7 linked regions of the Homo sapiens genome follow. The protein of the gene in region 4 purifies or fractionates together with the protein of the main gene of each other region. This does not show direct contact. Each region holds a gene or a part of one and is shown on either strand. Other genes may lie near its edges. The genes, in order: RBM25, RSBN1L, NNT, NEIL3, SFSWAP, BICRA and HMCES.

The links.
Region 1: the proteins of NEIL3 (region 4) and RBM25 purify together in Homo sapiens (affinity purification with mass spectrometry; one large-scale study listed by BioGRID and IntAct). This does not show direct contact.
Region 2: the proteins of NEIL3 (region 4) and RSBN1L purify together in Homo sapiens (affinity purification with mass spectrometry; one large-scale study listed by BioGRID and IntAct). This does not show direct contact.
Region 3: the proteins of NEIL3 (region 4) and NNT purify together in Homo sapiens (affinity purification with mass spectrometry; one large-scale study listed by BioGRID and IntAct). This does not show direct contact.
Region 5: the proteins of NEIL3 (region 4) and SFSWAP purify together in Homo sapiens (affinity purification with mass spectrometry; one large-scale study listed by BioGRID and IntAct). This does not show direct contact.
Region 6: the proteins of NEIL3 (region 4) and BICRA purify together in Homo sapiens (affinity purification with mass spectrometry; one large-scale study listed by BioGRID and IntAct). This does not show direct contact.
Region 7: the proteins of NEIL3 (region 4) and HMCES purify together in Homo sapiens (affinity purification with mass spectrometry; one large-scale study listed by BioGRID and IntAct). This does not show direct contact.

What each region holds. Positions count from the first base shown.
Region 1 is NC_000014.9:73,099,643-73,104,000, reverse strand, and holds part of RBM25 (RNA-binding protein 25), read right to left. Parts: intron 4,335-4,358; coding exon 4,251-4,334; intron 810-4,250; coding exon 523-809; intron 1-522. UniProt on the Homo sapiens protein: RNA-binding protein that acts as a regulator of alternative pre-mRNA splicing. Involved in apoptotic cell death through the regulation of the apoptotic factor BCL2L1 isoform expression.
Region 2 is NC_000007.14:77,765,558-77,769,915, reverse strand, and holds part of RSBN1L (lysine-specific demethylase RSBN1L), read right to left. Parts: coding exon 4,284-4,358; intron 1,256-4,283; coding exon 1,113-1,255; intron 1-1,112. UniProt on the Homo sapiens protein: Lysine-specific demethylase that specifically demethylates methylated lysine residues of proteins.
Region 3 is NC_000005.10:43,601,734-43,605,979, forward strand, and holds the start of NNT (NAD(P) transhydrogenase, mitochondrial), read left to right. Parts: upstream 1-1,446; 5' UTR 1,447-1,561; exon of another isoform or gene 1,562-2,937; intron 2,938-4,246. UniProt on the Homo sapiens protein: The transhydrogenation between NADH and NADP is coupled to respiration and ATP hydrolysis and functions as a proton pump across the membrane. May play a role in reactive oxygen species (ROS) detoxification in the adrenal gland.
Region 4 is NC_000004.12:177,354,475-177,358,832, reverse strand, and holds part of NEIL3 (endonuclease 8-like 3), read right to left. Parts: intron 1,839-4,358; exon of another isoform or gene 1,663-1,838; intron 1-1,662. UniProt on the Homo sapiens protein: DNA glycosylase which prefers single-stranded DNA (ssDNA), or partially ssDNA structures such as bubble and fork structures, to double-stranded DNA (dsDNA).
Region 5 is NC_000012.12:131,713,594-131,717,951, forward strand, and holds part of SFSWAP (splicing factor, suppressor of white-apricot homolog), read left to right. Parts: exon of another isoform or gene 1-477; coding exon 478-647; intron 648-1,228; coding exon 1,229-1,360; intron 1,361-4,358.
Region 6 is NC_000019.10:47,607,208-47,612,260, reverse strand, and holds the start of BICRA (BRD4-interacting chromatin-remodeling complex-associated protein), read right to left. Parts: upstream 3,128-5,053; 5' UTR 3,093-3,127; intron 1-3,092. UniProt on the Homo sapiens protein: Component of SWI/SNF chromatin remodeling subcomplex GBAF that carries out key enzymatic activities, changing chromatin structure by altering DNA-histone contacts within a nucleosome in an ATP-dependent manner.
Region 7 is NC_000003.12:129,288,584-129,292,941, reverse strand, and holds part of HMCES (abasic site processing protein HMCES), read right to left. Parts: intron 4,089-4,358; coding exon 3,945-4,088; intron 2,264-3,944; coding exon 2,138-2,263; intron 1-2,137.

The sequences.
Region 1 (4,358 bases), on a different chromosome or scaffold from region 4:
AGAGAGTGTGTGTGTGTGTGTGTGTGTGTGTGTGTGTGTGTGTGTGTGTGTGAGAGAGAGAGAGAGAGAGAGAGAGAGAGAGAGAGAGAGAGAGACAGACAGACAGACAGACAGACAAAGACCATGTTGTCTCTAAAAAAATTCTCAGGCTGGGCACAGTGACTCACGCTTATAATCCCAGCACTTAGGGAGGCTGAGGCAGGCGGATCACTTGAGGCCAGGAGTTCAAAACCAGGCTGATTAACATGGCAAAACCCCATCTCTACCAAAAATACAAAAAATTAGCTGGGCATGGTGGTATGAACCTGTAATCCCAGCTACTTGGGAGGCTGAGGAATGAGAATCACTTGAACCCAGGAGGCGGAGATTGCTCAGCCACTGCAGTCCAGGCTGAGTGACAGAGTGAGAATGTCTCACACACACACAAAAGTTCTCATTCCATGAATGCAAATGGTACTCTGGAGGACTACCCGATAGTTTTCTTAAAGCTATCAGGAAACAGTAACTTCTGTAAAGCCTTACCTTGATCGACTGCGATCCTTATTACGATCTGAGCTCCTTTCTCTATCCCGGTCACGATCTCTCTCTCGATCCCGATCTCGGTCTCTCTCTTTTGTCCGGTCACGGTCCCTATCCCGTTCTCGTTCCCGCTCCCGTTCTTTCTCCTTTTCTCGTTCACGTTCTCTTTCCCTTTCTCGTTCCCGTTCTCGCCTTTCTCGTTCCCTTTCACGCTCCCTCTCTCTTTCTCTCCGTTCTTTCTCAATTTCCTGTCTTTCTTTTTCCTTTTTGCCTTTCTCTTCTTCCAGTTTCTAGAAACCAATAAAAGCACTTTTAGAGTTAACTCTGTAGCTCCAGTATTCAGATTTTTCCCGGCGCAAAGCCCAGTACTGGGAACAAAAACACCAAACCACTGATACATTAATATTAAATACTTGTGGTTTTATGTGACAAATTAAACTGAAGCAATCACAAGACTAGAAAGATTTCGTGCAAAACCATATACTCTACACAGACCAGGAATCTCCAATCTTGGATGCTGGGAGATTGTGTCAGGTGTGGCTGGCCACTCAATGACTATGTACTAACTAAAATGACCATGAAGAATGTGGTGGTTCGAAATATTTTCTATGAATACGATCATTGGTTAAAACTCAACTCTGTGCATTATAGATTTCTGTAAATCCACAAGATTATTAATACTAATTAAAACCCCAGACTGCACATTACCTCAAGTTGAGGGTTTCAAAGGGCAAGTGGTATAGAAGAATACCTATAATGCAACTAAATAATCTCTGCCCTCTGATTTGCCCACCCTCCAAAAGAAACACAAGCTGAATTCAGCCAAGAACTGCCTTATCATCTATGGAAACATTTACTCCCACCATTACAAGATGGACAGCCCACCAAATACAAAAAGTTTGAAAATCACTCACTTCAAGCAAAATATATGTAACTGTAATAGTTTAATTTAAAATATTTAAAAGCAACATACTTATGCCCATTATGCCTGTAAGACAATGAAAATATATTTACAATGATAAATCCATCCTTGGAAGGAACGATTGTGCATTAACTTACAGATGCTGTGCTAGGACATGGATCGCCAACACTGGATTAACCTTGCCTACAAGCTATGTTTCTGGGAGGAAGAGCAAGTACATGGTTCACAAATAAACCAAATAACAAAGTCAGACCAAGTTTGTACCCTGACAAGATTACCAGTGTACCACACGGTTTCTACACAAACTCAGAAAAAAATACCCCAAACAGGTAAAACAAAACAAAACAAAACACATTTATCCCTTTTGTTTCACGTTTAGTTTCACCAAAATGAAATTTTAAACTGCAACAATAAAATGTGCATTTTTCTTTTCTCAGTCATGTAATGCATTTAAAACAACTTTAAAAAGCAATCTTACCTGTCAGATACTCTTTTTCTCTTCCTCATGGATCAGAGAACTTATAGCAGGTTATGAAAGGAAAGCTAATGTATGAGCAATATATTCAGTTGCTGTGCCAGTCTATATCGAAGTAGAATACGGGCAAAGTCAAAACTGAATACATTGAAATTACAAAGGGATGAAATAAGATATGATAGAAAGAGGACAGAAACTAACAGCTATTAAAGGGGGAAAAATCTCATTTCTGAAACAGTTCCAATGAATATAAAAATTTATATTGTAAAATGAGGCTAGACTATATAAAACTTACCTCAATGGCATACACTTATAAAGAAATTTGTTTATTTCTGAAATAGATACTTACAGAATATTTTAGCTGTTCCAATACTAATTTTTCCTGTAGAATTCCTCAATTTTTAATTCTTGCTTATTTCACTGTGCTCCTTATATTCAGTTATATAAATAACCATTTGTTTCAGAACTCATTTCAAAAGTTTGGTTCTAAGTAAATGAAAAAGTGAGTGAATCTAGTCCATACTAAATGTTTCCTGAAGTTTATATATGAGATATATATATATATATATATACACACATGTATACAAATACAGGTATACATGTAAACATACATGTATATTTTTAAAGAAAGACTGGAGAAGGGAAATGAGGTGAGTCTAAAATTATGTAAGAAAGTCATGAAGAGGAAAGGACAGATTAAAAAATCATAAATCTTACCTTATTCTCTCTTCAGACTCATCCGTGCTGTAAATGGACGCCCCCTGCCACGCTGATACCCTGACAGTCTGTGGTTATTTAATAAACTCATACCAAAACATGCAAAGGTTCACTGAGCTCATTTTTTGTTACTGGAGTTTCAAACAACCCTTTTAGCCAAACCACCCAATAAAAAACAACTGTTTTGGTTTTTCATTTTGATTTCTTTTTATTTTGAAAAGACATTCTGAAAATTCAAAACATTCCCTCCAGTGAAATAATACTAAGGCAGTAAAATGCCTAACAGATTCCCAAACTTTAAAGCAAATATATTTTTGAATTTTTCTTAAAACATGATTTCCTCATAATTTACCAATAACATGACAGGGTTTAACAAATAAATAAAAACAAAAAGGGGGTAAACCACACACACAACCATATACCATTTTTAAGCTTACTCGGTCCTGAATTTCAGTATTATACCTAACCAAAATTATTCATCTAAAATGATTTCCCATAGACCACCTTTTCAACTCTCAAAATTAATTTTGGGAGAATTATGTTTGTGCTCTTAGACACATTTAATTCTTGAAAAAGCATTGTGTTTGTGAGCAAGGGCTGGGCATCTGGATAGTAAGTGTTCAGCAGCACTGATTCATTGGCATTATTTGTGAACTGCAGATTTTGAAAGCAATGGGAAAAAGTAAGAATAAAAGAGAAAATGAACATTTAACATTTCACTGAGTTAAAGATCTCTCAGTCTATCAGTAAGAACCAGCAACACCTTATTATCTCGACCATCAAAATACATTTCATGCAGTGTTTGCATTGCACCGTTCAAAAGCATCATTTTCAACACCAGCGAACATTCACAGATGCACTGTCATTGAGAGAAGCTTCAAATAGGCAAAACTCGTGAGTGGGATTTACTATGCATAAATACCCATTTCCAAGCCAGTTACCCCTTTGCATATTTTTCTGAGGGGGCATCCATAAATATAATAAAAAACAGAAGCTCATACTTACATCCTATTCCTTGTTACTTTCCAAGCTGAGAGTTTCATCTTGCATTAGTCACCATATGATCTCTATCATAATGGTGGGGGTCAATGAATAGATTAGCTTTATGGGAATTTACAGTTCTTCCATGCATCTAAAATTTGGTAAGTCTGGTAACCACTGACCTACTGTTTAAAATCTCCCCCACTCAACTTAAATCTATACAAATATAAAATGTAAATTTTAATCTCAGCTCTAAAGAAAAGGTATTCCTAAGATCAAGTTAAATAACTGCCCCCAGAAATACACTACAGTGTATGTTATCCTGCTGCCCCCTGAATCTAATTTAAGTCTGACCTTGATGTTTATGTTGAAATCTAAAAATAAAATTAGCTTCTATTCATATTAAAGTGAGATGACTGCAGAATAGTCAGTAACTGAAAAAACTAAGCACAACATGTCAAGGACCACTTTAATATGGTATTGGTCTTCTGTTTCTTTTTTCTATCTAAATATCAATTAAACCTATAAAAAACATTTAAAATTATATTCTAATTTAAGGTTGATTTTTTTTGTCTCTTTGCTTTGGATTCTGTAAAAAGTCTAGATTGGTATCAAGTGAAAAGACAAGAATACTACCTTATGTGTGTCTCTGAATTTGCTGATCTCTCGAGATATCAGGTCTCTTTTGTCTTCTTCCATTTCTATAGCATTTATATCCTCCTAAAAGAAAACGGGCACAGGAGG
Region 2 (4,358 bases), on a different chromosome or scaffold from region 4:
TATGATCTACTGCCAGATTACTTTCACAAAATTACAGCAGCTCATCCTCCAGTCAACAATATATAAAAAATTGTTTCTTCACATACCTACCAGCCTATAATATTAATGCTATATTCATAATTTTTGCCAATATAATGAATAAAAATATCTCATAGTTCTTTTAAAATAAACTTAACTACCTGAGGTTATTTTTCTACTGGGTTGTTTACACTTGAGAATGCTCTTTGTACATTAACTTTGGTGTGTCATGAGTTCCAAATGTCTTAGTCCAGTCTATCATAATTTTGAACCTCATTGTTGATGTCGCTTCCCCCCCAAATACTATTGCCACTGCATTGTTTGGTCTTGCTTAGGAAGGTCTCCTCCAGGCTTAAACAATTTTATTCTAATATTTTAACTGTTTTATCTGTGATGCTTAATTCTCTAATTTACTTCTTGTATGAGGTAGGGGCTCTGCCTTTGTTTTTATGAGAGCCAAATATGCCAGCATTATTCATTAAATACATCTTCCTCTTCCCACCTATCTCATATATTAAGTTCCCAATATACTTAGATCTATTTCTGGACTCTTATTCCAATGATCTATTTGAACTTTATAGTAATTTTTAATATCCTGTATCATAAGCTGCCTCTCACTAATCTTCTCTTTCACTGAAAAGTTTACTTCCTTATGAATTTTAAAATAATTTTATCCAGGACTGGAAGTGTTAGTCCAATTGAAATGCAGAAAATTTTAAAGAACTATCATTTTTATCCAATCCAGAACACAGCAGGGCTTTCCATTTGTTCTGATCTTACTTTATATCCTCCACAAAACATTTTAGTCTTCTTAGTATAGGTTCTGAATATTACATTTATTCTAAAATAGTTTATATCTTATGACATTTTTTCCATCCATCATTACAATTTCTTGTCATTTGCCTACATTTCTCATGCTTTATTTACATTTTAGGTTTTATAACAAATTGTATTAGCATGTATCGCTATTTTTAAATTTATATTCCAATTATGCTCTAAACTTTGCATTCCTCCTTCCTCCAATTTTCAACTAACATACACACCCCAACATACAAACACTCATCCCCTCCAATAAAAATGTGTATACAACATACCTTTTCCTTTTGAAAGGTGACTTTGGCATATCAGCCACAGGGATCATTTGTTCTCCTGGACGAACCCACATGATGGGACCATCATCACTATCTTTTCGACTCTGTAATTTTAGACTAGATAGCGTCCCCCATGGCAGTGTACACTGGAGATAAATAATTATGCAGATTGCAATTATTTTCAAAATGTATCTTCAAGTGTATGTTAATAATAATATTGTTCCCCTGACAAACACACTTTCATACACAGCTTTATACTTAAGCATCTGAAATACATAATATTGAATATATCCCTATATATTGATATACTTTGCTTCAAAAAACTGTTTCAAACACACCAAGAAAATAATTATGCTTGGATGGTTCTGTCCCTATACCCTGCTAGAGGTATGATTCACTATATTCATCATTTGTTATTCTTCCTTCTACCATATAGATCATATGATGTTAACGGACTAAATAAGCAAGTGCTCTCATAAGAATCTATAAAAATGAACAATTAAATTTAAGTTTAAAAACTGGATACCTCTTTGATTAATGATAATTAAAAACAAAACAAAACAAAATCAAAACATATTTCTGTTCAGCAGTTTCTTGAAGAGGTTGTTGGCTTAAACCAGAGACTAAAGTATTTTAAAATGAAAGAACAAGGCTGGGCGCGCAGTGGCTCACGCCTGTAATCCGAGCACTTTGGGAGGCCGAGGCGGGCGGATCACAAGGTCAAGATATCAAGATATCGAGACCGTCCTGGCCAGCACGGTGAAACCCCGTCTCTACAAAATACAAAAATTAGCTGGGCATGGTGGCGCGCACCTGTAGTCCCAGCTACTCAGGAGGTTGAGGCAGGAGAATCGCTTGAACCTCGGAGGCGGAGGTTGCAGTGAGCCGAAATCACGCCACTGCACTCCAGCCTGGTGACAGAACGAGACTCCAAAGAATGAAAGGAGAGGGAGGGGGGAGGGAGAAGGGGGGAGGGAGAAGGGGGGAGGGGGCAGAGGAAGGGAAGGGGGAGGGAGAAGGGGGAGGGGGGAGAGGAGGGGAAGGGGGAGGGAAAAAGGGGGGAGGGGAGGGGAGGGGAGGCGAGGCGAGAGACAGAGGTGAAGGGGAAGGGGAAGAGAAAAGAGAAGACGGTGGCCGGGCACGGTGGCTCAGGCCTGTAATCCCAACACTTCAGGAGGCTGAGGCAGGCAGATCACCTGAGCTCAGGAGTTTGAGACCAGACTGGGCAACATGGAGAAACCTCATCTCTACTAAAGATACAAAAAATTAGCCTAGCATGGTAGTGTGTGTCTGTAATCCCAGCTACTCGAAAGGCTGAGGCATGAGAATTGCTTGAACCTGAGAGGCAGAGGTTGCAGTGAGCCGAGATCGCACCACTGCCCTCCAGCCTGGATGACACAGCGAGACTCCATCTGAAACCAAAAACAAACAAACAAAAAAAGACAGAGAGAGGGAAGAAGGAAACTGAGGGCCACTGTCCATGGAATGTTGAGAACAAAATTAAAAAAAAAAAAAATTTCACCACACACCCCCTTTTCAAAAAGGCTTGTCAAATTTCTTTAGAAACAATGCATTTAGGTTGGGTGTGGGTGGCTCACGTCTGTAATCACAGCACTTTGGGAGGCTGAAGCAGGAGGACTGCTTGAGCCCAGGACTTCAAAGCTAGCCTGGGCAACATAGCAGGACCCCATCGAAAGAAAGGAAGGGAAAGGGAAAGGGAAGGGGAAGGGGAAGGGAAGGGGAAAGGGAAGGGGAAGGGGAAGGGAAGGGGAAAGGGAAGGGGAAGGGGAAGGAAAGGAAAGGAGAAATAATGCATTTAGTTCATGTGCTTTGAAAATTAAACTTGAAGCAACCATTTAAGTAATATTTGGTAATTTTTAAATATAGTCCAATAATAAATGCAACCTAATTCCATGATGTAACTACTAGAGAGAAGTAGAAAAGGAACAAAAAGTTTAAAAGGAAAAGAGAAAAAGGAATGGAACAAGGTTAAAGAGAAAGGGAAGAAAAAGATATATGTACATATAGGGTAAAAACACCAAGCAAACAGAAGTAATAAAAGAAGAGATGTCCTATAGATTATGTGGTATCAGAAATCTTGTCACATTCCACAGCTTACCTGGACCCTGAATTTCAGTGTAGGTTTGCAGCATTGACCTTTGAGTTACTGATTAAATAATTAACCTAACCACACAGCTCAGAGATTCCTCTCTCAGTGGGATAGCCCTAGCACCTCACAATAAGAAATACTTTTTGAAAATCAAGAGGCTTTAAAAAAAAAAAAAAGGAATCTGGCTACAAACTATTTAAAGGGGCCTGTGGTGGTGGGCACAGTGGCTCACACCTGTAATCCCAGCACTTTGGAAGGCCAAGACAGGAGGATCACTTGAGTCCAAGAGTTCAAGACCAGCCTGAGCAACATGGTGAAACCCCATTTCCACAAAAAATACAAAAGTTAGCTGGGCATGATGGCATGTGCCTGTAATCCGAGGTACTTGGGAGGCTGACGTGGGAGGATCATCCAAGCCCACGGAGGTCAGGGCTCCACATTACACCACTACACTCCAGCCTGGGCAGAGAGTGAGGCTGTCTCAAAAAAATAAATTAAATAGAGGGGCCTTTGGCTACATTGTCTAAACATGTTATTTTATGGATGATGAAACTGAAGCCCAGAAAGTTTAAAGGGCTTGCCCAACCCAGATAAGTACAGCCATGGCTAAAATATGGGTGTGTAATTTCCCAGGCGAGTTTTCCTGGAATTTAGTTTAGGAATGCTAAACTGCCATTCCTTTGTCTTAAACATTTGTAGTAGAATCCTTCCTGTACTTCTTAAGTCCTTTAGTACTTAGTTTACAAAGAGCTGATAAACACATGGAACCTAATTTCCTAAAGTGTTAAGAGGTGTTATTTCATGGCCCACCACTTAGCTTTGCCATTACAATTAGAACCTGAGATGTCGCATGTACACACTACACAAGAATTATGTCAGTTTCCCATCTCTTGCTCTCCTTCCCTCCAGTTCAAATAAAACCAAAACGTTTCTATTTCTGAAACAGCCATTCATTTATATTGCATGTAGCATGAAAGAAACAATCACAATTTAGATTACTCATATTGGTTTTTCTTCCCTTTTTTAAAAAAAAAACTCTAATCCCATGACAGATTGTCTCTTACTTTTAAAAATGGTGACTCTTCCAACATGTCAAGGAACTCAGGGAAATAATCTCCTACTTCTTCATCAACTGCTCC
Region 3 (4,246 bases), on a different chromosome or scaffold from region 4:
AGGGGCTGTGTAGTGTGAGGTGTTCAGTAATATCCCTGGCCCCAACCCATTAGATAGGTCCCCTCTCCAATTGTGACAACCAAAATGTCTCTAGACATTGCCAAATATCCCTCGGAACTAAATTGTCCCCAGTTGGGAACCACGAATTATTAATCCCTAAAAGACAAAGCAGCAACTCCTGACCCCTACAAAAAGTTTTAAATCAATAACTTAGTTTAAAATCCTTACTAAGTGGGATCATTACTAATCTCACTTCATTGTACCTTCAGTATCTGGAAACCGTCCCTATGGTCACACTTACCACGGCTCATTATTATTTTAAAACATGGGGCTGTGTCATTTCCTGTCTGTGAGTTTGGACTGCAGTGGGAATCCATTAGTTGAATGACCTTCTGTGTAGGTTAATCACAAGACAAGTTCTCAAACTAAGGGTTTCCCTGCGGCTCATTTCTTTTTAAAGTTATGGAATACCTGTTCTGCTTATACCTTTTAGATTCATAATTATTTTTCTTGTATCAAAATTTCAATTAATAGAAATAAATGACGTTACTGACACTTCATGATGATTAAGTTTTGGGCAAGTGAACCATTTTACACTCTATTTTTTATTCCTCCCACTTTTAGTCAGAATACACCTGCAGAATAAGTAACAGAACTGTGTGAAAAGAACGACTAGGTCATTACGGTTAATAGTTTTAGAAAAACAGCCGAGGCCTGGTCTGGAAAGCTCACAACCTCCACCCAGATGCTTTCCAGCCTCGGGGATATTCGTACTAGCAGTGACACTAGCCAGCTTCCTCTAGGCTGGCTCTGATGTTGGAAGACAAGCACGCAGATGTGTGTTACTTTTCAAGCCTGGACATCGTTTCTGAGGAATTTAACTCCACCTCTCCTGCCAGAATGGAAAATCAACGCCCCCCATTCCCGCCCTTCACCAACCCCTCTCCGCCTGCCCCTTTCCCTTGGGTCCTCTCTGTTACAGAAGTTCTGATTTTTCCTAGCGAGCTGGAGGAAAGGCAGGTACCCGGAGTGGAGTTATATTACCTGTTTCTTTGTTCTGATGGGACCCCAGAGAGGACATCACGCTTTGTAACTGGTTCTTCAAGGGGAGAAGCAAATGTGTCCCTGAAAACTTCAGCTGCCGCGTTTGGCACCAGGTTTGATTGACAAGGACTGGCGGAGGGAAAGCGCGGAGGCTGGGCTGGGGGCCGCAGGCCGAGGCAGAGACAAAGAGGTTTCGCCTGTCCCCGAGAGTGGAAGGGCCCCTGGGGGTAACTAGCCTTTGAGCTCAAAGGGGCATTTCGTGAGGTCGCCTTTTGGTTCGGAGAGCGCGCGGCGATCGGGTGGAGGGGGCCTGGCGGGAAGAAAGCTGGGGCGGGGAAGGGGCGCGGGCCGAGGTGGGAGCGGAGCTGCAGTCACGTGGCCGCCCGCCGCCGCGGAGTTGGGGCTGTTCTTCCGGGTTGGAGGCGCAGCGCCGCGGGGCCCAAGCCCGGGTCTGCCAGCGCGACGTCCTCTCGCGGCCCTCAGGGCACAGCCCAAGGCTGTCAGCCTCCCGGCCCAGGTGAGCGCGACGGCACTGGCGGGTGCGGGCAGCCGGGGCGCGCGCCTAGGGCGCAGCTGGGAAAGGGGCTCGGGCCTTTCCTGAAGACCACGGCCCTCGCCGGGAGAGAGACCTGTCAAAGAGCAAAGCGGGGCGGGGTCGGCGGTGTCCCGGGCGCAGGGTGCATTGGGGTGTCCGCAGGCCGCAGGCTTAGGTGGGGAAGAAGCACCGTGCCTCTTGGTGTCCCTTTCTCGTCTCCTGCTGGGGCGATGTCGAAGGGAGTGGGCTGGTGGATTTGGGAACTGGGTCCCCGAAGAGGGCAGGGAATGAGGCGGCAGCTGTGCAGGTGCAGATATTTGCAGCTTTGGGGGACAGCGAGAGTCGTACGGGGTCATTTCGGCCCTCAAGATCGGGGGTGGTGGAGAGGGAGGTCATAGAGGACTTTCGATGGGCGGTTCATCCAGAGAGGTGGCAGCTGGATGCCCTTGAGGTATGCTTGACCCTTGAGGGAGTTCGGAGAGGGTGTCCGGCTGGGGACATAGGAGATTGCGAGCACAAATTGTGAGTGTGAGTTGGGGCGGTCTGGCGGTGGTGGGTACAAGTTTCTGGGGCCTAGGCTGGTGAGGAGGAAGAGACAGCGGAGAGGGCGACCTGGGCAGAGCTAGTTCAAACTCAACAGCCGGAATGACTATTTGCAGCCGTGGCCAATCGGCTTCCTAGGGAGGTTATAAATAGCGGTCTCGTGCAGATGCCAGCGGGTGGCAGTTAGTTGCCGAGCAAGGGACGGCACCGGTGGCAGTAGCCGTGACACCAGTGGCTTTGGGTGAGGTCACGGCGCCTGCCAGCCGAAGCTGGCTCAGTAGGGTATTGTGTCCTTGCTGGTATGTCTCGCTTTTAAAAGCGTGACTTGTTTATGGTTGCCGGTGTCCTTTATTCACCCTGTGGCGCCGGCCAGTCCTTAGGTGGTCTGTTTGTCAGGAGTCTTGTAGGACAGACTTATTCGGAGAAGCGCGTGGGGCTTAGGTGCCTACCTACTCTTCTTATTTAAAGTGTGCCCCTTTTCTTCATTGCACCCCTTTTATTTGTAAACCTTGACTTTTTATTAACAGACAGTTTAGGATTGCCTTCTTTCCAGCAGGTGCGCTTAGGCTGCTTACCTTGGTGATAGAATCAGTTTTCCACAAGGCTACACAAACATTTCCTTTTCAAAGGAAATTTTCCGAAAATCCTTGGAAAATGTGCTCAATAGGTACTTAGGCTTAAGGTCACCTAGCCCTATTCATTCAGTCAAAAATACTGACTTCCTCTGTGTTGTGCAAAGCACTGGGGGAGAGTAATACCAAAGTGAATATAACAGCTGATAAGGATATTCTCAGTCCTGGCAACAACCCTGAGAGGTAGGTGCTGTTATTTTATTTTTTCAAGTCTCGCTCTGTTGTCCAAGCTGGAGTACAGTGGCACAATCACGGCTTACTGCAGCCTGGAACTCCTGGGCTCAAGTGATTCTCCCACCTCAGACTCCCAAGTAGCTGGGACTTCAGGCTTGCACCACCATGCCCTGCTAATTAATTTTTTTTTTTTAGCAATGGGGGTCTCACTGTGTTGGCCAGGCTAGTCTTGAATTCTTGGCCTCAAGCAGTCCTCCCCACTAGCCTCCCAAAGAGATGGCATTATAGGCGTGAGCCACCACCCTGGGTGGGTGCTATTATTCCCCATTTTAAAGATGAGGAAATTAAGTACAGGGAAGTTAAGTGACTTCCCAAGGTCACACAGCCAATAAGTTGCAGAGTGGGGCTTCCAATCCGCAGATCCAGAGCTGACTCTCTTAAATATCTGTGGTATCCTCCCTCTTTAGGTTGGGTGCTTTCCCTCAAGGATTTTAATATCTAATAGGGGAAATAACCCATATAAGTTACATTAAACATACATATGAAAGCAATGCTTAAAAAGTTGTGCTTTTGGGCCGGGCGCGGTGGCTCACGCCTGTAATCCCAGCACTTTGGGAGGCCGAGGCGGGTGGATCATGAGGTCAGGAGATCGAGACCATCCTGGCTAACAAGGTGAAACCCCGTCTCTACTAAAAATACAAAAAATTAGCCGGGCGCGGTGGCGGGCGCCTGTAGTCCCAGCTACTCGGGAGGCTGAGGCAGGAGAATGGCGTGAACCCGGGAAGCGGAGCTTGCAGTGAGCCGAGATTGCGCCACTGCAGTCCGCAGTCCGGCCTGGGCGACAGAGCGAGACTCCGTCTCAAAAAAAAAAAAAAAAAAAAAAAAAAAAAGTTGTGCTTTTTTCCCCTAATTTTGAGTTATAAAGTTTTTTTCTTATTGCTTCAAAGCCACAGGAACACATGGATAAATGAGAGCTTTACAGTGAAGATGGAGGAAAATGTGATGATTAGGATGGAGTATTATCTTTTGTATAAACCTGTACAGGTCAATGATAAGATAGTTTAAATATTCTCTATCTTTCAGGGCCATTTGTATTTGGTTTAGACTTAGTGATATGTATTGCTTTTGCCAAGAAATGACCTCCTGATCTCTGCCCTGTATGTTCACAGTTGAATCAAGTGAAATTTTTCACAGAAATGGGCCTATGAAGGCTTTGGCCCTACTGATGTCTGATGCCCCTGCCAAGGATCTGCTGAACATCAAATTACCATTTTCCAAGTAGAAGGAACAAATTTTCCAGATTTCAGGCCATGAAATA
Region 4 (4,358 bases):
ACGGTTGAACATTTTCTAACCTACTTGTTTCAACCTAGAGAGCTCCAGGGTTCCACATATCCAGGGAGAGGTTTAGATTCTGTATTAAAATTTTTCTGGGGAGAAGGGCCAAGGTAGAAGGTAGGATTAAAGTAGAAAGGAGAGGCCCAAATGTCATCTCTCTGCCTTCACTTCTGCCTTCCACTCCATTTCTTCCCTTAAAAATTAAATTAAAAACATAGCCACAGGCTGGGCATGGTGGCTCACGCCTGTAATCCCAGCACTTTGGGAGGCTGAGCCGGGCGGATCACCTGAGGTCGAGAGTTCAAGACCAGCCTGGCCAACATGGTGAAACCCCGTCTCGACTAAAAATAGAAAATTAGCTGGGCGTGGTGGCGGGTGCCTCTAATCCCAGGTACTCGGGAGGCTGAGTCAGAAGAATCCCTTGAACCCGGGAGGCAGATGTTGCAGTGAGCTGAGATCGCGCCATTGCACTCCAGCCTGGCAACAGAACAAGACTCCTTCTCAAAAAAAACAAAAAACAAAAAACAACAACAAAAACATAGCCACGTGTGATCTTATTCTTGGTACTCAGAGTGTGGTCCACTGACCAGAAGCAGCAGCATCACCCGGAGCTTGTTAGAAAACACAGACATATCCACCCCTACTCCTGATTGCCTGCAGAATCAGAATCTGCATGTTAGCAGGATTCCCAGGTGATTCATATGCACATTAAGTTATGAAGCACTGAAGTAACGTAACCAAGATACTAATGCCACCTGTATCACACTGGCTCTAAATATGCACAGCTAATCTTAATTTTATGATAGACAACATTATCCAGGATAATTAAATGTTCTGATTAACTGAGGACATCTTAGTTCCTCTTTGTTTTATAAAAACTTTCTAAAATATAGCAGATTTCTTACTTAAATGTAGCATACAGAATTGTTCATTTTCGTGATCATGACCATGATTTTGAATATTAATTCTGGGTTATAAGTGATCTATTAATACAACAGATCGGGGCTGGCAAACCTTTTCAGATAACGTATTTTAGGCTTGCTGGTCTTACGGTCTAAGTTTGTTATCACAAAAAGCAGCCATAGATAATATCTAAACAAATGTAAATAAAGCTTTACACAAACAGGTGGTGGGATGGATTTGGCCCTGCTGGCTATAGTCTGCTCATGTACATGTCATTAGAATCAAGAACAATGCCCGAGGCATAATAGATTCTCAATACTTATTAATAAATAAAACTGAACAGAGACCAGACAAAAACTATCATCAAGAAGGAAGACATTACTAAGCACAGATCTGTAATTTTAAAGTGAATATTATTTTTTCATGGTCAATTTATCACAGTTTAACTTAGGGGTGTCCAATCTTGGCTTCCCTGGGCCACAGTGGAAGAAGAAGAATTGTCTTGGGCCACACATAAAATACAGTAACCCTGGTGACAGCTGATGAACTTAAAAAAAAAATCACACAAAAAACTCACGTTTTAAGAAAGTTCACAAATTTGTGTTGGGCTGCATTCAAAGCCGTCCAGCCCACAAGCCTATGGTTGGACAAGCTTGGTTTAACTCATTTTATAGATAGGGCGATTCATTATAATAAAAATACTGTCTGAATTTTTTGGATTAATCGGTCTCACTGAATGTAGATTTTGTCATACAGGATTATTTCGAGGATTAAAACAAACAAAAGTGAAATGACTCATTCTGGACGGCCCCAGGTGGTTCTGAAATCCTGAGACTGAAAACTCCAAGAAGCAACCAAGAGACAAGGACATGGTGTCAGTACTTGCACTGGTGATTAAAGACAGATCTTCAACATCCCTGACGGCAGCAAATGTGAGAAAATATTAATGATTTTGTTATTGTCATTTCACCCTCCTATGTGAGCCTTTGCATCAACGCAGGAAAAATTTCAGCCTAAAACACATGCATTCTTTGAAACTGCATCACTGTGTTTTGCTCTGTGTTTACAGTAATTGGATCGACAACTTAAACTGTTTCTAGTAATTATTCTTAACTGTTTAAAAATGGGTTCAATCATCTAATTTATAAGCCAATAGCTGGATGGAATACACATCTATCTCAAGACCAATCAGAAAATATGCCTCATCAACACTGCATGGATTGTGTGGTAATGAGAACAGTAATTAAGAGAACAAAAGTCAAAGTAATTATCATATAATATTAAAGAAAAAATAAACTGGCTATAAATTATGAATGGACCACCTGCTTTAATAGTATTATGTTGTGAGCTTCTGCTAGGCATCTTGTCCACAAGATGAACACTATAGCTGCCAGACAAGGAGAAAAATGAAATAAATGACAGTAATTTGCAATTTATTCCTTGTAAAGTAGCTGGGTGCAGAAGGGCTGCTGGGTGAATTTATTTCATCACTTGACATTTATTCTGCTAGTTGATCTTGATTGATTGTGGAGTCTCAGTCCTGGTGTTCTTATATTCAATACATACACAGGCTGCAGCATTCCTAAGTAATGCTGTGCACTGTGATTAATCATATGATCCTATTACTAATGGCTTATGAAGAAATCATTTAAATTTAAGGTTACATTAATGTTTTTTTAAATCCCTAATTCATTAGTTAAAATGTCTGAGATTTTCTACAAAGCATTAAGGAAATAAAAATATGCCAAGATATTTCATCTAGGTACAACAAATGCCACAATATTTTAAGATGATCACTTCTACTTTCCACTTAAGCCACGGAACAGAAAAGACTGTTTGGAAATGATTTTCTGTTCCAGGACAGCCTCCCAACTCAAACATTCTTAATTAACTCCTTAATGAACTTCTATCATGAGGCACTAATTAGGGTTAAAGTGAAAACGTGGTGGATTTATCCAGTCAGTTAAAAGTTTAGCCCCCTTAGCTTACTTCAAATGTGAGTATATGAACAAAAGTTAAACCAGTTATCATAAATGATTATGAACAAGACATTAAAAAAACCAGTCAAGGATAAATCATCAGGATTAACTGATGGTAAATTTAGAGCTGGAATAGGAAACTTGGAGTAAACACATCTATTGAGCAGAGACTGTCTCAGAATTTGTTATGAAATAAGCTTAAGGATTCCTACAGGTTGCTCTAGGAGTTTACACCAAATGGTCCCTCACCCCACCGCTGAGAGAAGGCATCTACCCATCAGTAAAGGCACAGCTAATAAGAGGAAAAGCCAGTGAATCTCAGAATTCCACCTGAGATTACTCTAGGTCCCAACCAAAGTACATCCCTCCATAGCCGTAGGTTCCCAATCCATGAATTCAACCAACCTTGGATCGAAAATATTTGGAAACAAAAAATAATGAAACAATAAAAAAATTACACAAAATATACAGTATAACAATTATTTACACAGCCTTTATATTGAATTCAGTATTATAAGAAGTAATGCAGAGATGAGTTAAATATATGAAAAGGTGTGCATAGGTTATATGCAAGGACTATGCCATTTCATATCAGGGACTTGAGCATCTGCAGATTTTGGTATCCTGGGGGTCCTGGAACAAATCCCTTGAGGATACCGAGGGATGACTGTAACTCCTTCTCTGCCTGTCTCCCATTGGCAAGAAAAGACATACATGGGAGGACGACCCTCCATTTATATGTTATAAATTCTCCACTTATTTAAAAATGCTGGATGTAAGTCAGCTGCTTTCTGAAGGAAAAAAGAAAGCAGCTGAGAAAAGAAAATGGTGGAGAAATGTGTCCTGTGTTGGAGATATAACATCGGGTTGCCATAGTTAGGAATTCCAGATAAAGGGACTGGGAGGGCCAGATAAAGGGGGAAGGAGGGTCAACAGAAAATTGTTTCAGGAGCTGCCGATAATCATTAAGGAAAAGAGAGGATGACGTTATGTATTAAAATTTCTGTATCACAGGTGACAAAAATGAGGGTGTTCTCCTGGACATGTAGCTGGAAGTCCTATAAAATATATCTGCTCTGGTAGTATTTCTTAGTTAGAATTACAACTTTTGAATTTCAGATACAAAGTAGCAAGTATGCTTTTTAGGACTTTTAGTTAAAGAACAACGCCAGGCGTAGTGGCTCACGCCTGTAATCCCAGCACTTTGGAAGGCTGAGGTGGGCAGATCACCTGAGGTCAGGAGTTCGAGACCAGCCTGGCCAACATGGCGAAACCCCATCTCTACTAAAAATACAAAAAAAATTAGCCGAATGTTGTTGCAGTGAGGCAAGATTGTGCCATTGCACTCCAGCTGGGCGACAAGAGCAAAACGCCACCTCAAAGAAAAAAATAAAAATAAAAATAAACACCATCTCGCATGACTGTTTGAGATCCATCCACGTTCTTTAACAGAAAGGTCACTACAGGCACCTC
Region 5 (4,358 bases), on a different chromosome or scaffold from region 4:
AGAGTTCGGGACTAGCAGAAAGAAGCGAGGAAATTTCGACCGTTTGGTTCTTACGGATAGGTATTTATGTATTTGGTTTGTGTGAATGTAAGCTATGATATTTAACTTTTCAGAAAAAAATAATAATTTTTTGCAAGTGGCATTGAATGGTTGACCAAACCATAATGGTAAGAACTGCCAGTGAAGTGGGTACCATTTTTGCTATTAATGGATTGTTTGCCTTTAGTTATAAATGTTATCTTACTGTGGAAAGGAATTTAGAGTTTGTTAAGATAACTTGAGTTTAAAAGTAGGTGAGATATGACTATCCAAATTAAATATAAATCTGGGAAGAGTTTTTATACTTGTTTTAATATTTTTGTTTATTTTAATCGGTAAGTATGTGTGTGTATATATATATACATATATAAAACATCACACACGCACACCAGTCTAGACGTTAATTTCCTTTTATTGACCAGCTTGTTCACATTACAGATATGATGGACGTGGTCACCTGCATGACCTTTCTGAGTACGATGCTGAGTATTCCACGTGGAACAGAGATTATCAGCTGTCTGAAGAGGAGGCGCGAATAGAGGCCCTGTGTGATGAAGAGAGGTATTTAGCCTTGCATACGGACTTGCTTGAGGAGGAGGCAAGGCAAGGTACTGCTCAAGACAAACTTACTTCAGCAACAAACTTTTTAAAATTTTTAAGTATTTAAAAATTTACTCCCATTCATTTTTTTATACTCACTCTTTCTGATATTATCTTGACAGTACCCAGTGGATTGGAAAAACAGGAGTCTTTGCGTTCTGAGAGGACCTCAGGATAGTTTATATATAGAGCCACAAAGAATTTTCCCAGCTTTTGAGGGCAGACTGGGATTTGAAAAAAACAAAAACCAAACTCTTTAACTGTTCTTCTTTAACAGTATCGTATAAATAAAATTGATGTTCTTGTCTTTGCCGTAACAGTCTTTAATACAGTTCTTAATCCCAAAATTTTCTCAGCAGGAAGAAATTTTCCACAAAAGACGTGTATTCAGCTGTCTGTGGGTAAACATGTACTGACAAAAGTACATAATGATAGATATAAAGTGTGAATTTTTAAAACTATTTTACCTCAAAAGTAGGTTGAAAAAAGTATGTTGTATGCTTTACTGATAGCTACAACTTTAGAAATATATAAAGTTTTTCTCAGTAATTTTCTATTTTTGTTGATAAAATTCTCATTTTTATTCAAGAGGAAGAATACAAGCGATTGAGTGAAGCACTAGCAGAGGATGGGAGCTACAATGCCGTGGGGTTCACTTACGGTAGCGACTATTACGACCCGTCAGAGCCGACGGAGGAGGAGGAGCCTTCCAAACAGAGAGGTGAGTGGGGAGCTGCCTGGACTGCTGGTGTAGGGCTACACGTGTACGCACAGGCTGCATGCACCGTGGTCCAGTCTGCAGAACACATCTCTGGCACTCATGATAGCACCACTATGACCACAGGAGAAAACGGGAGTGATATTCCTTCTTTTGGTAAAACGAAGTTAAAAACTAGAATGATTAATGGAGGTGGAAAGTGAATGCGTTGGATTATTTATTTCTCATTGATTCGGGTAACAGAATTACTCATTCAGGATTATTTGTTTCTAGATTGGTAACATGTTCATTAATATCCTCAGGGATTCATTCTTGAGGCAGTGAAAGAATAGGTGTTAACTGGGATAAGTTAACATCACCGCCCTCTCACTGACCTGCTTCCCCATATCCCTCCACAACTGAGACAGTGACACATGCCCAGTGGAAGGACACAGTGAGGGAGTTTCTACTCCCCAGAAAACAGCACAGCTTCCTGGTAGCCTTGATGCCACCTAGGGCATATACTTACCACAGTATTTTAAATTAAAGATTTGGAATTTATGCTTTTCTGGATTAACATGGGAAACTTTGAATATAAAAAATAGTGCTGCTGAAAAACCTGGGCTCGTGTAGTATAGACACAAATATCCTCAATCACTTCACTAAGCGTCGAGAGCTCCACTACCACAGCGCTGCATCATGGTCAGTCGTTAATTAGCAGTAATGCTAACATGAACCTGACACCTTAAAGACGGGTCAGTATATTCAGGATATTCTGTTTAAAAAGAAGAAGAACATTAACTTAGAAACATTCAAATGTTTACATTACATCAAATGGAGATTTAATTGTAGAGCTAATTTAATCTGTTATTCTGAACTTCATCGGTTTCTCCTTAAGTAACACTTTTTATCTTTTTAAATTTTTTTATTAAAATACACAATAATTTAAAAAAAGAGATGGGGTCTCACTGTGTTGCCCAAGCTAGTCTCAAACTCCTGAGCTCAAGTGATCCTACTGCCTTGGCCTCCCAAAGCACTGGGATTACAGGCATGAGCCACCACATCCAGCCAAGTGACACATCTTTTAACAAGTATGAAGCAATTATAGCACTTTAGTAGTAAAGCAAAATGATGTTTGCCCTTCCATCCTGTGACTGCACTATGGTTCTACCCATCGGCACTCTCCAAGGGCTGCGATCCTAACGGAATGATAGGACGTGGGGCAAACGCACACACCGGCTTTCCTTTTGCCCTGTCTTTAGTCCTGCTCCTTACTTTGTGGGCACAAGAATTACTGTTGCACAGCTCTATTTTATGAGCTTTTAGAGAAACTTTCAAGTGTAATTGTAATTATACTGAGTTAAAGGCCAGTTAAGGTATTTAAGACTTTTTGCATTGACTTTCAAACCTACCCATCCCTCAGAAGTTACGATGCACTAGAAATGTTCTATCAGGTCTAAAACGTAAACACCCATTTATTTATCCAGAATAAGCTCTCCTTCCTCGGGTTCTGGATAGTTCTGATTTTGTTGTCTTATCTCTAAGCCACACACATGAGTTCAGCTTTCTATCTGTGGTGTTTTTATCAGAAGGAAGGAATAGATACTATAGCCACTTCACAAATAAAGAGTTGAAATACAGTCAGCTTATTGGGTCCACATCTGTGGATTCAACCAACCACAGATCTAAAGTATTGGAAAGAAAATAACAAAGTTTTATTGGAACACAGCAATGCTCATTTGTTTACATATTGTCTGTTGCCACTTTCGCACTTCAGCAACAGAGTTGAAGAAATGAAACACCATATGGCCCACAAAACCAGAAATATTTATTAATACTGTCTGGCATTTTATAGAGTTTGTCAGCCCCTATTCTAGATGATGGACCATTGTCTCGGCGTAATTATTGGGCTAAATGATGTTCAGTTTGTTATAATTATTGAATCTTGAGAACTTCAGCATGACTTAGCTTATCATCTGAGTATTAGTTTGCTTTCCCCTTAAGATAAAGTTCTCTTTAGTATTTTACAATGTTACTTCTTTTCTTTCTGTAATCGTGTTCTCAGAACATTGCCTTATATACTGATTAATTTCGTTAATGGAAATTGGGCCCACATAAAACTTAGAGCTTGACATTTCGTGTTTAACTTGCATTAATATAAGTGAAACACCTAACACACACACACACATACGTGCATATTGTAATAGAATCCAGTACCACTAACAGCCCCATTGAGCGTCACATTCTGTTAAAATAAAATTTTTTTTCCTGAGCCATCAATATGTCTACGTATGTCTTGATTTTCAAAATTACTGTATTGTATTGTTTGTTAGTATTTTAAAGCCTTGTGATACTAGCCAAAAGCATTTTGATGGTGCCTCCATCTCTGATCTTTACTATTTTCAGTCAAGTTTTTATCCTTTAGATGTTCATAATTTTTCATCATTATTCTATATCCATTTTTTTCCCTCTTTTTTAGGGGAATAATGGGGCGGGGACAGGCCCTCACTGCTATATATCCATTTTTTAAACAAAAGGTTATTTGAATTTATTTAAATCTGAGTTTGTAGTGCAATGGTTGGTTTTTATTTTGTGCTACTAAAGCTGTTTTTTTGTAAATAAAGGTATATATAAGAATAGACCAAATCTGTTTAACCCATCAATCCCAAAAAGCTATTTCAATTAAAATGCCTTGATTTTTATGAATAACTTAACATTAAGGAGAAGCTATTTGCCTAGACAATGTTTTAATCATTTTTTTCATTTTAGGAAAATATAGTAAAAGTTGTATTTTTAAATTTACTTTGTTTTACTTTTTTGAGACAGAGTCTCGCTCTGTCACCCAGGCTGGAATGCAGTGGTGCGGTGTCAGCTCACTGCAACCTCCACCTCCCGGGTTCAAGCAATTCTTGTGCTTTAGCCTCCCAAATAGCTGGGATTACAGGCGCCCGCCACCACAACTGGCTAATTTTTCTATTTTTAATGGAGACAGGATTTCACCATGTTGGCCAGACTGGTCTCA
Region 6 (5,053 bases), on a different chromosome or scaffold from region 4:
TCATTTTTTGTAGACACAGGGTCTCACCGTGTTGCCTAGGCTGGTCTTAAAATCCAGGGCTCAAGCAATCCTCCAGCCTCGGTCTCCCCAAGTGTTGGGGTTACAGGTGTGAGCCATGGCACCTGGCCTTAAATTTAAATGCCAGTCAGATTACCTGAGGTCAGGACCTCAAGACCAGCCTGGCCAATATGGTGAAATCCCGTCTTTACTAAATATACAAAATTTAGCCAGGTGTGGTGGTGGGTGCCTGTAATCCCAGCTACTCGGGACGCTGAGGCAGGACAATCGCTTGAACCTGGGAGGCAGAGGTTGCAGTGAACCAAGATCAGGCCATTGCACTCCAGCCTGGGCAACACAGCGAGACTCTGTCTCAAAAAAAAAAAAAAATTAAATGCCACCAGTTGACATTCCTCCCCTGTGCCCACACTGCGTACCCGGCCTGCTGAATGATAAATATGAATGACACGTTTGGATAATACTTTTACCCACCTCCAGGTCACTTAAAGGAACTATAATTACCCCCACTTGCAGATGAGAAAACAGGACCAGCAGTTAAATGACCTGCCTAAGGTTACAGAGTGGATCATGCCAAGGAGAACAGGCAAGAAAGTTCTCCGCTAGCTGCATCAAAGGGCCATGGTGTGGCAAAGCGACAGCGGGTCACAGGGCATAGGAACAACCAGACATCAACATTCCCAAACAGTTCAGCTTCTCTCTTCTCTACTTCAGGGCTGAGTAGCAGCAAATGGGGCCAAGTCCCCCGCTCAGGTAGAGAAGGGAGAAGATGACAGTGGGGCCAGCTCCCAGGTACCCCGAGCCCATCACTGGCCAGGCCTGGGGCTCCCCCTCCCCCACTCCTCACACACCTTCAGTTCTCAGTTCCTGCAGACAATTCTCCATTCCAGCCACAAGTGAAATGATCCTGCCCTCAGCCCAACTTCGAGGTGCATCTTACCCCTTCTCAAAACCAGCTCCCAGGGAAAAAAAAAATCTGGCCGCTTCTTCTAAATATTATCTACATTTCCGAACCAGGTCCACTGAAGTCAGGGGGACAAAATGCCAAAGGGTGGGACAGAAGAAGGGCTTAACAGTTTTGAGCCAAGCTGGAAAAACTCCAGGAGGTTACAAATTGGGGCTCTGTGTGACCCAGGGCTGTGTGACCCTGGGCAAGCTTCTTAACCTCTCTGAGCCTCCATGAACCTGTCTGGAAAACGGGAATGTCTGTCCCGTCTCTATTTCCTCCTTGGACTGTGGCCAGCGTGTAATGTACTTAGCAGCAGCGGAATAAAGCTCCCTAGTTTGATATTGTTATTAATATTTCCATCTTGAGCGGGGAGCTATGAGGGAAGGCAAGGGAGGTCAACATGTCCCAAAAGTCCTACCAGTGCATGGGAAGGGGGTGCTTCCTGAGTTGTCTTCCCATTTTCTCATGACCCAGGGCAGGTCAGAGTTGACAATACCCCCCACACCCACCCCAGGTGCTGGGAGAGGTTAAAAGCACAGAGAGCTTATCATGAATCTCAGGCCTTGATGCCTTGGATGTTTCTAGTTTCCCTTTCAAGTGCCCTCCGTAAAGAGGTGTAAGAGAAAGGCACCCCTAGATCTGTATTATACTATGGGGTGGGTAGGTAGGTGTGTGTGTGGGGGGGGGGTGACAAAAGGGGACGATGGTCAGGACATGGGCCTGGGCACAGACTGCAGCCCACCAGGATGGGGACACCAGAGAGCTAGGACCTGTCACCTGGGCCTCCCCGGGAGAGCTGACACCGCGGCCTCTGACCCCACCTCCCGGGAAGTTCAGCTGCTCAGAACCACAAAGCAAAACAAAGGGGCGCGGAGAGGAAGAAGCCGCAGTGCCTCCCAATCACCGCCGGCGCCCGAGCCCGAGCCTAGCTCTCCCGCGGCTCCTTGCCCGGTCCTCCCGGCTGGCCGCGCACCAAGGCCCAAGCAGCCCCTGGTCCCTCGTCTCCCCGCGGCCGCCCGTGACAGGAGTCGGGGAAGCAGACGAGGGGCAGCCAGGGATGGGAAAACCAGATGGCTCCATCCCTCCTCCCTCCTCCTCCATCCCTCCCTCCGGGTGCCCGCGGCCTGGCTGCCCTCCGCAGGGGCCCGGGGAGGCCGCAGGCCCAGCTCGTCCGGGCTCACCCCGGGGAAAGGGCTGCCTTTGTCTAAAGGTCACCACCCGAGCGCGGTGCCCCGGCCGGGCCTGGTGCCTCCCGTTCCCAGGCCGAGGGGTAGGAGATGGGGGGCCGCCCCGAACCTCGGGAAGTGACAGGAGGCGCTCACCCCCCCCACCCCCGTAACGGCCCCCTCCGGGATGAGCCTCAGCTGGGGGTGGGGGAGGGGGTCACCTCCCTCTATTGCCGGGGGCTGGGGGTCAAGTCAACTCCTTTCATTGTTTAGGGGCGGTGCGAAGGGGGGAGCCCCGGTGGCCTCCTTCCCCATCCATCCCTCCCCAGCTTTCCAGGGCCCCCCACTGTCCGCGACACCCACGGGAGGGATTTGGGGAGGGGGCGCAGGGGCCGAGCGAGGCGGGGAGATGCAGGCTCTCCGCCTCCGGCCGGGAGATCACCGCCCGCTGCCCGGTGGCCTTCGCCTTCCCCGAAAGGCGGGGAGCGGGGCGAGGGGAGGGGGCCGGGACGGGGAGGGGGTCTCCGCGCCCCTCCCCCCGTGGAACGTTAGGTCTCCTCTCTCCGCCGCTCCATTGTATCCCCGGCAGCCGGCGGGAGGGCCGGGGAGGCACTGGGCGCCGGGTCTGGGCAGGGAAGCCGGTTGGGGGGGGGTCCCCATAGGATCGGGGCGGCGGCGGTGGTGGAAGAGACGCGGGGCTGGGGGTGCCGGTGGCGGTGGGCGCCGAGCAGGAAAAAAAAAAAAAAAAAAAAAAGGAGGCAGCGGGCGCTGCGCCCCGGCTGGGGGGCTGAGTGTGAGAGTGTCGCGGGGGTGGGTTCGGCCCCGGCTCCGGCTCCCCCCACACACACCCTCGCCGCCAACCCCCACTCCCCCCTCGCTTTTGCGCCCTGTCACAGCCCCGACTCGCAGGTAGAGAGAGTTAAGAGATTTAAAGAGAAATTGCTACATTGTGAGAAACTCACCCTGATGTTTGAGCAGCCGTCGGCGCGGGGTCTCCGAGACGGCCCCGCACGGGCTGCAAAGGGAGGACCCAGAAGGGGCCGGCCGGCCGGGCCGGTCAGCGCACTGCCTGATCGCATGGCGGCCGCTCGGCAGCCGCTGCCGGGCCCCCGCCGCCGCCCCGCGCCCAGGCCCGCGCGCCCCGGGCCCGCGCCCGTTCCGGGGAGCGCCCCTCGGGTATGCAAAAAAAAAAAAAATTTTTTTTAATTAAATGCAAACGGAAAAAAAAAAAAAAAAACCTCTCAGGTTTTGTGTTCCGCCCCCCACCCCCTTCCTCCTCCTCCTCCTCCTCCTCTTCCCTCCGCCCTCGCCGGAGGAGGGGCTTCAGGAATCCCCGCCCCGCGTCCGGGCGGACCAGCCCCGGCCCCGCCAGGCCGAGCGGCGGGACCCGGAGCCAATGGGAGGCTGCGGACGTCCGGGGACTGGGCCCTCCGCGCCGGCGCCGCCCCCGCCCCCAGCCCCAGTCCCGGGGGTTCAGGGGCGCGCCTGCTCGAGCTCGGGTGTAGTTTGTCGACTGCCTCGAGCCCTGATCCGGATGCTGGGGCGCGGGGGAGCTGAAGGGATCCGCGCTCCCAGACCGCCGGTCCGGCTGGGGAGGGGGCGCCGTGCGTCCTGGGCGCGTCCCCTGAGGCGGAGGACGGTCGTCCGGCGGGAGGACGCGTCCAGGGGGAGCGCCGCAGGTCCGAAAAGATAGCGGGAGTCGAGGATGAAGGAAATGGAGGGGATGGAGGGGAGTTCCCCCCGGAGGTGGGACCGCGCCGGAGCCCAGAGTTGGAGCCTGACAGGGTGGAAGGCGGCGGGGACTTCGGGGTGACAGGCCGGGACCCCAGGCGTGGCTCGATCACTCACCCTAGCTGGTCTCCGTCGAGCCACGGCGGCGCCGGGGAGGCGGGTCGGGCCTGCCTCGGAGCCTGTCCCCGGCCGCTCTGGCCGCGCTGATGGGATTCCCAGAAGCCCCAGGACGCCGCGGTGGTGTCGGGTCCGTTTCCGCCCCACCAGGCCGTAAACGCCCTGCTGGCGGGACACGGATTCACGCGTTGCCCTTAGCGAGCGCTTGGTGAGCGCCCACTGTGTGCGCTGCGCAGTGCTGGGGGCCCAGTGGGGACACAGAGCCCCCGGACCTGCCCTCCCGATGCTTGCAGCCCAGGGAGATTTATACTTTGTTTTAGTCCCTTCTGCCTCCCCAGTGCCCTAGAAAAGCTCGTGCACACAGTAGGTGAATGCGGGTTGAATAAATGAGTAATCGAGACAGATTGTGATTTTGTTGTTGTTGTGTTATATTTTGTTTTGTTTTGAGACGGAGTTTCGCTCTTTCGCCCAGGCTGGAGTGCAGTGGCACGATCTAGGCTCACCGCAACCTCCGTCCCCTGGGTTCAAGCTATTCTCGGCCTCCCAAAGTGCCCGGCCTCTGTTTTTTTAAGCCTTAACATGTGTTCTAGTATCTTGGCGGTACTACCCATAATATTTACTTCAACGTATTTTTTTTTTTTATAATTTATCGGCCAGGCGCAGTGGCTCACACCTGTAATCCCAACACTTTGGGAGGCCGAGGAGGGTAGATCACCTGAGGTCAGGAGTTCGAGACCAGCCTGGCCAACATGGTGAAACCCCTTCTCTACTAATAATACAAAACTTAGCTGGGTGTGGTGGTGCACGCCTGTAATCCCAGCTGCTTGGGAGGCTGAGGCAGGAGAATCGCTTGAATCCGGAAGGCAGAGGTTGCAGTGAGCCGAGATCACACCATTGCACTCCAGCCTGGGCGACAAGAGGGAAACTCTGTCTCAAAAATAGTAATAATAATAATAATTTATCCAGCCTGGGCAACATAGCGAGACCCTGTCCAAACAAAAATTAGCCCAGCATGGTGGTGTGTGCTTGTACTCCCAGCTACTTGGGAGGCTGAGGCAGGAGGATCGCTTGAGTC
Region 7 (4,358 bases), on a different chromosome or scaffold from region 4:
CAGGCCTCCCCTTTCCTTCCACCAATCACCTACTAATCCCAGAATCCACTCCCTAAACATTTTTTTAATAAAAGTACTCCTTAAAGCCAGCTAGGGAGACAGAGTTGAGCTGGACTCCTGTCTTCTTGTTAGTCGACTTGAAATAAAAAACTTTTCTCGGCCAGGCGCAGTGGCTCACGCCTGTAATCCCAGCACTTTGGGAGGCCGAGGCGGGTGGATCACAAGGTCAGGAGATTGAGACCATTCTGGCTAACACCGCGTCTCTACTAAAAATACAAAAAATTAGCCGGGCCTGGTGGCACACGCCTGTAGTCCCAGCTACTTGGGAGGCTGAGGCAGGAGAATCGCTTGAACCCGAGAGGCAGAGGCTGCAGTGAGCCGAGATCACGCCACTGCACTCCAGCCTGGGCAACAGAGAGAGACTCTGTCTCAAAAAAAAAAAAAGAAGAAAAAAAAAAACTTTTCTCTGTTACCCAGGCTGGAGTGCAGTGGTGCAATCTCGGCTCACTGCACCCTCCACTCCCCACCCCAGGCTCAAGCTATCATTCCACCTCAGCCTGCCAAGTAGCTGGGACCAGCTACTCAGTATCATGGTATTGGCTTCTAGCACATTGGGTAGCAAGTCCCTTTTACTCGGTAACACTATTTCCAGTCCCCAAAATGAGATGACAGGTGAACAAACAATTCCCAATTTTAACAAGCAAACTGCTAAGAACTCAGGTGCTTTAGCAGTGTCAGACTAAATAATCTAATTAAAAATAAAACATGATGTTGGCATGTCAGATTTGTTTTCAATCTCCTGATAATGTTTTAACATGAACAGTTCAAATTATGTCTTACAGTGAAAGGGTTTTTGTTTCATTTTTGAGATGGGGTCTCACTCTGTCACTCAGGCTGGAGTACAGTAGCACGACCTCAGCTCACTGCAACCTCCACCTCCTGGGCTCAAGTCATCTTCCCACCTCAGCCTCCCAAGTAGCTGGGACCACGCCCAGCTAATTTTTTGTATTTTTGGTAGAGATGGGTTTTCGCCATGTTGCCCAGATTGGTCTTGAACTCCTGAGCTCAAGTAATCCACCTGCTCTGGCCTCCCAAAGTGCTGGGATTACAGGCATGAGCAACCGTGCCTGGCCTGAACCACTGCGCCCAGCCACAGTGAAAGTTTTATGAAGGAAATGTTAAACGTAGAGTTGTAATATGACCTAGCAATTCCACTCCTAGGCATCTATCCAAGAGAGATGAAAACAAATCCATGCAAAACTTGTACATGAATGTTCATAGCAGCATTATTCATAATAACCAAGAAGTGGAAACAATCCAAGTGTCTATCAACTGATGAATGAATTAACAAAATGTGGTCTGTTCTTACAAAAAGGAATGAAGTGCTGATCCATGCCAAACATGGATGAATCTTGAAAACATTATGCTAAATCAAAGAAGCCAGTCACAAAAGACCACATATTCTATGATTCTGTTTTTATGAAATGTCCAAAATAGGCAAATCCAGAGATGGAAAGTAGATTCGTGTTTGACAGGGGCTGGGCATAGTGGAGAATAAAGAGTGATTGCTAATGGATATGTAGTTTCCTTCTAGAGTGATAAAAATATTCTAAAAATAGAGGTAATAATTGCATACTTTGAACATACTAAAACATTCCTGAATTGCACATTTTAAAAAGGTGAATTTTAAGGTGAATTATCTCTCAATGAGCTCATTTCATTTCATTTCACTTTATTTTATTTTATTTTGACAGAGTCTTGCTCTGTCGCCCAGTGCAGTGGTGTGATCATAGCTCATTGCAGCCTCTATCTCGTGGGTTCAAGTGATCCTCCCACCTCAGCCTTCCGAGTAGCTGGGACTACAGGCACACACCACCATGCCCAGCTAGTTTTGTATTGTTTGTAGAGACGGGGTTTCACCATGTTGCCCAGGCTGGTCTCAAACTCCTAGGCTCAAGCAATCTTCCCGTCTTGGGCTCCCAAAGTGCTGGGATCACAGGCGTGAGCCACCGCACTGGGCCAAAGCTGTTATTTTAAAATAAATAAATAAAACTATGGGGAAGAAAAAAATGTCCTTTGGATTAATTTGTTTCCCTGTGCCTTTCCAAATATATATTGTGAATGCTGATAATGATACCTTCTCTGTCTTGATTTGAGGAAAATAGATGAAGTATGGCTGCCTCTGGTTTGTTCCCTGACATCGCTGCCACTCATAGAATCCATCTGCTAAAACGACACAGCGTCTTCCCTTTCCCAGAGGCACCTGAGGGAAAATGTGAGCAAGATATGGTCTTAGTGATACAATCATGTTTCACAGGCTGCCATTACTTGGAGAACTTGAATTAAAATCTGAGGTTTGGGCCAGGCGGGTGGCTCACGGCTGTAATCCCAACACTTTGGGCGGCCGAGATGGGAGGATCACTTGAGGTCAGGAGTTCGAGACCAGCCTGGCTAACAAGGTGAAAGCCCATCTCTACTAAAAATATAAAAATCAGCTGGGCGTGGTAGTGCACACCTGTAGTCCCTGCTACCTGGGAGGCTAAAGCACGAGAATCACTTGAACTTGGAGGCAGAGGTGGCAGTGAGCCAAGATCATGCCACTGCACTCCAGCCTGGGCAAAAGTATGAGACTCCATCTCAAAATAAATAAACAAACAAATAAATACATAAAATCTGAGGTCTGCCAATGTATGACCTTAAAACAGTTATTTAATTTCTCTGTACCTCTCTTTTCTTTTTTTTTTTTTTTTTGAGACGGAGTCTTGCTCTGTCGCCCAGGCTGGAGTGCAGTGGCGTGATCTCGGCTCACTGCAAGCTCCACCTCCTGGGTTTACTTAAGCCATTCTCCTGCCTCAGCTTCCCGAGTAGCTGGGACTACAGGCGTCCGCCACCACGCCCGGCTAATTTTTTGTATTTTTAGTAGAGACGGGGTTTCACCGTGTTAGCCAGGATGGTCTCGATCTCCTGACCTCGTGATCCGCCCATCTTGGCCTCCCAAAGTGCTGGGATTATAGGTGTGAGCCACCGTGCCCGGCCACTCTCTTTTCTTATGTATAAAGAAAGTCACAACTCACATAGATGTTGAAAAGATTAAATAATGTACATAAAAGCAATCACCTCTTTTCTAACAAATAGGTACTTGTCATAGCTAGTCTTCAAAGGTGCCTCCCCAATGAAGCATGCTTCCCAGTATTCACACCCTATGTAGACACCTCCCACACTGAATTTGGGCTGGCTCTGTGTAACCCATAGAATGCAACAGAAGTAGGCCGGGCGTGATAGCTCACACCTGTAATCCCAGTACTTTGGGAGGCCCAGACAGGTGGATCACTTGAGCCCAGGAGTTTGAGACCAGCCTGGGCAACATAGCCAGACCTTGTCTCTATTTAAAAAAAAAAATTAAACAATAACAATAAAAGAATACAGCATAAGTAATGCTGTATGACTGCCAAGATTAAGTGATGCTGTAAGACAAAGGCTTATATCTTCTGTCCTGCTCTGTTGGATCATGAGCTCTGGGGTAAATGAGTCACCGTAACAGAAGCCTGGCTACCCTGACACCCTCGAGCTAGGCATATGGAAAGCCTTCTAGTTGTTCTAGTCATCCCAGCTGAAGGGTCAGATGTGGGTGAAGAAGTCATCTTGGACATCCAGCCTCAGCTGCCATCTAACTGCAACATGAGAACTTCCAAGTGAAAACTGCCCAGATGAGCCCAGTCAACCCAGAGAATATGAGAGATAATGTTTATCATTTTGTTTCACACTACTAAGTCTGGTGTGGTTTGTTATGTAGTAACAAAATAGCATTCCACATTAACAACTGGGAACATTCTTTTTTGTGTTATTTATTTATTTTTGGTTGTCCTCTGTAGGCTAGGATGGAAACACCCTTTGGAACCTTATTTCTGAGGTATACGGGGCACTAATAGCTACCAGCCACCTACCTTAAATGACCGTTTCTCCATTACGGTATCACTACGACAGTTGGTAGTATTGAACTGCAGCTTGGAAGGATCACTTTCTTTGAACCAAGAAGGGACCAAGCCCCAGCGCATGGGAGCAATGATACGCTCAGATGAGTCTGCATCCTGCCACGGAGAGAAGATCTAGTGAGGAGATCATAATGAAATTCTAACCTAATTTAACATATGTATTTATTACATTATTTAGGAGTATTGAAATATAAAGAATTCAAGATTATTTTTAAACAGGGAATCTACTTGAAAACAATTTTTTTATTTTTTTTGAGATAAGGTCTGGCTCTGTCATCCAGGCTGGAGTGCAGTGGCGCTATTTTGGCTCAATGCCACCTCTACCTCCTGGCTCAAGCCATCCTCCCACCTCAGCCTCCCAAGTAG